Linked DNA regions of Homo sapiens. The main gene of each other region encodes a partner of the protein of the gene in region 2 in a complex. Each region holds a gene or a part of one and is shown on either strand. Other genes may lie near its edges.

What was found.
Region 1: DRC4 (region 2) and DRC3 share a complex: the UniProt entries of both Homo sapiens proteins name them as parts of the nexin-dynein regulatory complex.

The regions. Positions count from the first base shown.
Region 1 is NC_000017.11:17,989,572-17,993,382, reverse strand, and holds part of DRC3 (dynein regulatory complex subunit 3), read right to left. Parts: exon of another isoform or gene 3,569-3,811; intron 619-3,568; coding exon 472-618; coding exon of another isoform or gene 415-471; intron 375-414; exon of another isoform or gene 294-374; intron 1-293. UniProt on the Homo sapiens protein: Component of the nexin-dynein regulatory complex (N-DRC) a key regulator of ciliary/flagellar motility which maintains the alignment and integrity of the distal axoneme and regulates microtubule sliding in motile axonemes.
Region 2 is NC_000016.10:90,028,915-90,032,725, reverse strand, and holds part of DRC4 (dynein regulatory complex subunit 4), read right to left. Parts: exon of another isoform or gene 2,825-3,811; intron 1,551-2,824; exon of another isoform or gene 1,428-1,550; coding exon 1,230-1,427; intron 9-1,229; coding exon 1-8. UniProt on the Homo sapiens protein: Component of the nexin-dynein regulatory complex (N-DRC), a key regulator of ciliary/flagellar motility which maintains the alignment and integrity of the distal axoneme and regulates microtubule sliding in motile axonemes.

The DNA.
Region 1 (3,811 bases), on a different chromosome or scaffold from region 2:
TTGTGAGTAGCCAGGATTACTGGTGTGTGCCACCACACCTGGCTAATTTTGGTAGTTTCTGTAGAGATGGGGTCTCCCTATGTTGCCCAGGCTGGTCTTGAACTCCTTGGCTCAAGCGATCCTCCCGCCTCAGCCTCTCAAAGTGCTGGGATTACAGGCGTGAGCCACTGCTCCCAGCCCTCCTCAGCTTCTTCATCTGGAAAACTAGACAGTGCAGGATGGCTGTGAGGTGGCCCTGGGACAGTGTGTGGAAGAGGCCTGGCCCCTGGGAACGCACACAAAACAGTACTTACAAGGGTGCTGCTGGAATCACTCTGACAGAGTCAGGTAAAGGGATTAGGAAGAGGGAGCTGCCCTTTCTCTCCTAGTTGTGGGCAGGGGAAGCTACTCTTCAATGCCCCTTTTCCAAGAAACCTGGGGGCTTGAGGAATCTGTCTCACAGGGCTGGGAGACTGAGAGGGAGACACTTGCTGTGTGGTCATCAATGCGCCGGTAGTCCAGGTACATGAGGTCAGGAAGGTAGGCACAGATGAACATCTTGTAATCCTCTGCCTCAGAGATAGGGTTCCTAGAGAGGCTGAGCGTCCGCAGGCACTTGAACCGCCGGAGGTAGATGATCTGGGGAGAAAAAGGGAGAAAGGCCCATTTTCTTGGCTGCCACAGAGTTGAAAACACAGCTGCACCTCCCTCCTCAGTACTCTTTCAGAGTCAGCCTGGCCACAGCACCATCAGCACTGGGGTGGGGTGACAGGCAGTGTGCAGGCGTGGGGGTGTTCCAGGCTGGGAAGCAGTACCGAGACCTTCTGTCAGAAATGGGCTTTTCAAAGAACCAGCAGACCATGGTTCAGGTCTGCTGAACCATGTGGTGAGACCTTGAACAAGTTACCCAACATCTGTGAGCTTCAACGTCCACATCTGTTAAACGGGTATAAGGATATCATGTGTGTTACAGGTGTTATAAAGACCAAGTGAAATAAGCTATAAAAAGCACTGGAAGAGTGCCTGACACCTATTCGGTAATGGGCGTTTTAGTTGCTGTTACCAGCATAGGCATACCCTTCTATTTATTTTTTAAAAATCTTTTAAATTTAACTTAATTTTATTTTTTGAGATGGAGTCTTGCTCTGTTGCCCAGGCTGGAGTGCAGAGGTGCGATCTTGGCTCACTGCAACCTCTGCCTCCCGGGTTCAAGTGATTCTCGTGCCTCAGCCTCCCGAGTAGCTGGGATTACAGGCCTGCACCACCACACCTGGCTAATTTTTGTGTTTGTAGTAGAGATGGGATTTTGCCATGTTGCCCAGGCTGGTCTCAAACTCCTAGGCTCAAGCGATCCACCAGCCTTGGCCTCCCAAAGGGTTGGAATTACAGGCGTGAGCCACCGCGCCCGGCCCTATTTTGTTTTTAAGTAGGGATGGGGTCTTGCTGTGTTGACCAGGCTGGTCTCGAGCTCCTGGTCACAATAAATCCTCCCACCTCAGCCTCCCAAAGTGCTGGGATTACAGGCGTGAGCCACTGCACCTGGCCAGGCATGCCTTTGTAGATTGTAAAGCCCCATGGAAGGTACAAATATCTTAAATTAAATGGGACCCAACTTATGGCTAACCTTGGATTCCCTGGATAACAGCTAGGGGAACATTCCAGTAACTTTATTTATTCTCCCTACACTCTATTTTTAGTAAAATGAGGAAAATGTTAACCAGGTAGTTAATATTAGATTGGTGCAAAAGTAACTGTGGTTTTTGCCATTAAAAGTACTGGCAAAAAAGTATTTTAAAAAAGCAATACTTTGGCCGGGTACAAGGCTCACGCCTGTAATCCCAACACTATGGGAGGCTGAGGCAGGTGGATCTTGAGGTCAGGAGATGGAGACCATCCTGGCTAACATGGTGAAACCCCGTCTCTACTAAAAATACAAAAAAAAAAAATTAGCCGGGCATGGTGGCAGGCGCCTATAGTCCCAGCTACTTGGGAGGCTGAGGCAGGAGAATCGCTTGAACCCAAGAGGCGGAGGTTGCAGTGAGCCGAGATTGCACCACTGCACTACAGCCTGGGTGACAGGGCGAGACTCCTTCTCAAAAAAAAAAAAAAAAAAAAAAAAGCAATACTTCATTGGATAGCATCTAGACACTGTACTATGCAAAAGATAGAAAAAAAAATCTAGCATGCTTTTCTGAGTGAATTTCTTTCAGTCATTTATTAGTCACCTAGCAGCAAACACTATTAGTCACCTAGCAGCAAACACTATTAGTCACCTAGCAGGCCTCCGGCATGTGCTAAATTATGAAGATACAGTGGGGAACAAGGCCTGTGGGGTCCCTGCCCTTATGGCAAGAGCACATATTTTAGGAGTGGGGGAAAAATGTTTTCTTTTTAATTTATTATTATTTTTTTTAGATGGAGTTTTGCTCTTGTCACCCAGGCTGAAGTGCAGTGGCGCGATCTCGGCTCACTGCAACCTCCACCTCCCAGGTTCAAGCGATTCTTCTGTCTCAGCCTCTGGAGTAGCTGGGATTACAGGCACCCGCCACCACACCCGGCTCATTTTTATATTTTTAGTAGAGACGGGTTTCGCCATGTTGGCCAAGCTTATCTCGAATTCCTGACCTCAAGTGAGTCGCCCACCTTGGCCTCCCAAAGTGCTGGGATTACAGGTGTGAACCACCGGGCCCGGCCAAATGTTTTAAAAAGTAAATAAAACCATTATGCTTTGAGTTAAGTGCTGTAAGGAACATCAAGATGGCACCCTGAGAGAAAATAACAGGGAGGCCTCTTTCAGTTAGGAGATTCAGAGGTCTCTCTGGGGAGGTGACATTTAATCTGAGACCTGAGGGAGCCAGCCGCAGAAGAGCAGAGGAGAGCACATTCCTGGAAGCCAAGACAGCACAGGCAAGGGCCCCAGGCAGCAAAGAACTTGGCACATGCCAGGCACTGAGCAAAGGCCAGGGTGGCTGCAGAATGCGGGGAGAGGGCTGGGAAGAAGTTGAGATGGGAGTAGAGACAAGGTCAGGGGCTGATTCATGCAAGACCATGCATGGGTTTGGATGCTGCCTGTCTGGCATGCAGGGCAAACTTCTGAGACTCCACCACCTCTGTGGCTTGACCCAACGGAACTGCTAGTGACAACTCGGTGCTTCCCACCCCAGGCTGTTCATGTAAGCCCAGCCTGGCCGTCACCCAGCCATGATGTTAGGCTGAGGGTCAGTGTAGACCCTGAGGGGGCTTGATCAGACTAAAGGGCCACTGTCGGAAGGAGAGTTCTTGCTCTCTCCATCCTGCTAGATGCAGACAAGGAAGCCCGTGTCCTTGACTGCAACCATTAAGAGAATCAAGCTCTGGGGAGATGCTGAGGATGGCAGAGCCCAGAGGCAGAAGGAACTCACGTCCTTGAAGCTCTGCTGATAAGCACCCCTTCCTTGCAGTGCCAATTATCACGCCACTAAATGCCCTTGTTGTTTGCCGCAGGGGCTCAGCTTACCTCCGGCTTCAGCTGTAGCCATGAGAGACCTTAGCTGGCAGCGTCCTATCTCATTACTCACTTTCTGCCTCAGAGATATCTCTGAAGCCAAAGAAGCCCACCCAGCCCAAAAGCCAGGTGGCAAGAAAGTTAATCCCCCTGGGGTCTCCCTCAGCTGTTGCGGGAATCAAATGCCTTAGGCTCCTGTCCTTAGAGGGTCACTTCTGGGAGGCATTCTGGACACTTCCGAGGCCGGGGAATCCTCCCTCGTCACCTGCAGCAGCAGTCTCAGTGACACGCCTGTGTGTTGGTTCTTCCCTGCCTCCCTTACTCCAGCTTCCTGAAGCCACCTCTCAA
Region 2 (3,811 bases):
TTGTACACCTGCAGGGCAATGGGAGTACCATCTGCTCACCTGCACCACACCTCCTCACCTTTCCGTACCTGTGCACACCTGGTCACCCATAGCACACCTGTACCACACCTCCTCACCTGTCCATACCTGTACACACCTGGTCACCTGTACCACACCTCCTTACCTGTCCATCCATACCTGTACACACCTGGTCACCCATACCACACCTGCACCACACCTCCTCACCTGTCCGTACCCGTACACACCTGGTCACCTGTACCACACCTCCTCACCTGTCCATACCTGTACACACCTGGTCACCCATACCACACCTGTACCACACCTCCTCACCTGTCCGTACCCGTACACACCTGGTCACCTGTACCACACCTCCTCACCTGTACATACCTGTACACTCCTGCTCACCCACACCACACCTGTACCACACCTCCTCACCTGTCCATACCTGTACACACCTGGTCACCTGTACCACACCTCCTCACTTGTACATTCCTGTATACACCTGATCACCTGCACCGTACCTGTAACACACCTCACCTGTACATACCTGTACCCCCCTGCTCACCTGCACCACACCTGTACCACACCTTCTCACCTGTCCATACCTGTACACACCTGGTCACCTGTACACCTCCTCACCTGTAAATTCCCGTACACACCTGGTCGCCTGCACTACACCTGTACTACACCTCCTCACCTGTACATACCTGTAGACACCTGGTCACTTGCACCTACCTGCTCACCTGCACATACCTGCCCCACGTGCTCACCTCCCCACACCTCACCTGCACATACCTCCTCACCTGGCCACGCCTCCTCACCTGCACACACATGCTCACTTGCATCCACCTGCTCACTTGCATGCCTCACCTTTACACAGCTACACATGCCTGTTCACCTATGCAAACCTGTACACTTGAGGCACAGAGCAGGACACCAAGGCTGGGAGGTGAGGTGCATCCCCAGCTCATGGGGTATTAAGTGGCAGAGCTGAGTTGCAAACAGGCCAGTCTGCCCCCAGAGCCCATATTCCTTCCATGTTGTGGAGGCAGCATTTTAAACCCTCAGGACCTGCAGGGTCTCTCCCTCAGGCTTTTATAAAAAACACCTTTAAGGCTGTGACTCCCAAAGCCAAGAACAGAAAATGTCCCACCTGCACCCTCACTGGATCCAGCTCCTCTGGGGCTCTGTGGTGACCAGGTTAGCACGTGCAGGCCGGCCCCACTCACCTTGATCTCCACCTGGTGCCTCTCCTCGGCTTCTTCCATCTCCCGGTCTTTGTTCCGCAGCTCAGCCTTCTTCTCCTCCAGCTGCCTCCGTGTGATCTCCCAGAAGGTGTGGATCTTGTCCCGCTCCAGCTGGAAGTAGTTTCGTTCCTCCCGCTCGCGGTCCAGCTCCTCCCGGATGCGGCTGACATGCTCCTCCACCTGGCCAGGTGCAGTGGGTCAGGTGAGGCACTGAGCAGGGGCCCATGCACGGCAACGGGGCGTGTGGCCGGCGAAAGGCAAGGAAGAAAGAGGGAGGACTCAACTTCACCTAAAAATAAACAGCTAAATGTAAAAAGTTAAAATATAAGGCTAGGAAGCTCCGGAGACAGAATGCATTCAGCAGGTGGCAGAATTCTCTTCAATTTGGCCAATAATCATAAAATAACTAGATCCTTTCATCCATTCCTGAGAATTGATGCCTAAAAAATTTCTCAAAAGAAATATAAGAGCATCTTGCTCAAAGATATTACCCACACCATTATTACAACAGCAAAAATATCAAAAAGGAAATAACCTAAGACCAGTTTAAACAGGGAAATAAGCGAGGCGCGGTGGCTCTCGCCTGCAACCCCAGCACTCTGGGAGGCTGAGGTTGAAGGATCCCTCGCGCCCAGGAGCTGAAGACCAGCTTGGGCAACATAGCAAGACCCCATCTCTGCAAAAACTTTTTTTCATTAACTAGGCATGATGGCACGCACCTATAGTCTCAGCTACTGGGAGAGCTGAGGTGGGAGGGTCACTCAAGCTCAGGGGGTTGAGGCTGCGGTTAGTTATGATCATGCCACTACACTCCAGCCTGGGTGACAGAGTGAGAATCTGTCTCAAAAAATACACAAACAGCCAGGCATGGTGGCTCCCACCACTTTGGGAGGATCTTTTGAGCCCCAGAGTTGAACAGCCTAGGCAACATGGCAAAACCCTGTCTCTACAAAAAAAAAAAAAAAAAAAAATTAGCCAGGAGTGGTGGCACATGCCTATAGTCCCAGCTACTCAGAAGACTGAGGTAGGAGGATCGTTTGGACCTGGGAGGTCAAGGCTGCCGTGAGCCGTGATCACACCACTGCACTCCACCTGGGTGACAGAGCAGGACCCTGTCTCTAAACAATAAATAAATAAATATGGAAATGGTTGAAAAATTAGAGTATATCAACTAGGAGAAATATCACATTAACCCAAAAAAAATATGCAAATGATGTAGCAGCATTTAAACAAATTCATATCATAATGCTAAATGAAAAAAAATTCACCTTTGAAGATATAATGTTAAGCAAAAAATATACAAAACCAGTAGACTCTAAAATCTCAAGAGGGTTCAATTGCGAATCTGCAAATAGGTTAAAAAAAAATGTAGGACAGGCTTCCAGCTTTCTCGGGAGCTCATTTCCCTTAAGAATCAGTTACTGCCAGGCGCGGTGGCTCACACCTGTAATCCCAGCACTTTGGGAGGCAGAGACAGGCAGATCATGAGGTCAGGAGATCAAGGCCATCCTGGCTAACACGGTGAAACCTCGTCTCTACTAAAAATACAAAAAAATTAGCCGGGCGTGATGGCAGGCACCTGCAGTCCCAGCTACTGGGCAGCCTGAAGCAGCAGGATGGTGTGAACCCAGGAGGTGGAGCTTGCAGTGAGCCGAGGTCGCGCCACCGCACTCCAGCCTGGGCCACACAGCGAGATTCCGTCAGAATCAGTTACTTTTCGGGCACAGCCCCAGGCCACTTACTGTGAGCCTTTTTCTTTCTCAACACCACATTCCCCACAGGGAAAACACATTTCTCACCTCAAAAGAAGACAAGACAACGAGCAAACAAGAAGGAGCAGCAGGAGGGGTTCTGAGCCGAGGATGCCGGGCAGACATGAGGGAGACACGCACCCCCGAATCCAACCAGTGCCTCGGCACAACGACAAATGTCTTCACGTCACAGACCTTTAGAGGCTCCTGGGCAGAGCCTGAACCAGGGCTCCTGACTGGTCTGTTTGGCTCACATGGTGTTGAGATTTTGCCATCACTCAATATTCAGATTTCTTATAAATATCCAGATTTCCAGCTTCTCTTGGAAAATCAGAAAAAAACAGCACTGAACTCCTAGGCCCACAAGGCACTCCCCAGTGAACAGATGAAACTGTCCTCTGCTGCGGGGCAGGAGTCTCCAGGTCACCCCCATCCCTCCCCACCTGCCTGGACCCTGAAGAAGCCTTCTGAGTCTGTGGCTCAACGTGCGATGTGCAGTGCAAGGGCCTGCCCCGTAGCCTGCCCCGTAGGCTGCCCCATAGCCTGCCCCGTAAGCTGCCCCGTAGCCTGCCCCGTAGGCTGCCCCGTAGGCTCCATGGCCACTGCCCCACAAGGCCTGTCTCCACAGGAATGGGAAGCGGACAGGGAGACGGGCAGCAGCTCACATGCTGGGACAACGCAGTGTTCAATCCATTCTCCATCCAGCAGCTCCAGACATCTTTCCAGAACACAAACCTGACCCCATCACCTCTCTGCTTAGCCACTGGCTTAAACTGCCAATGGTTTGCCTGCATGTAAAATAAAGCCATTCTT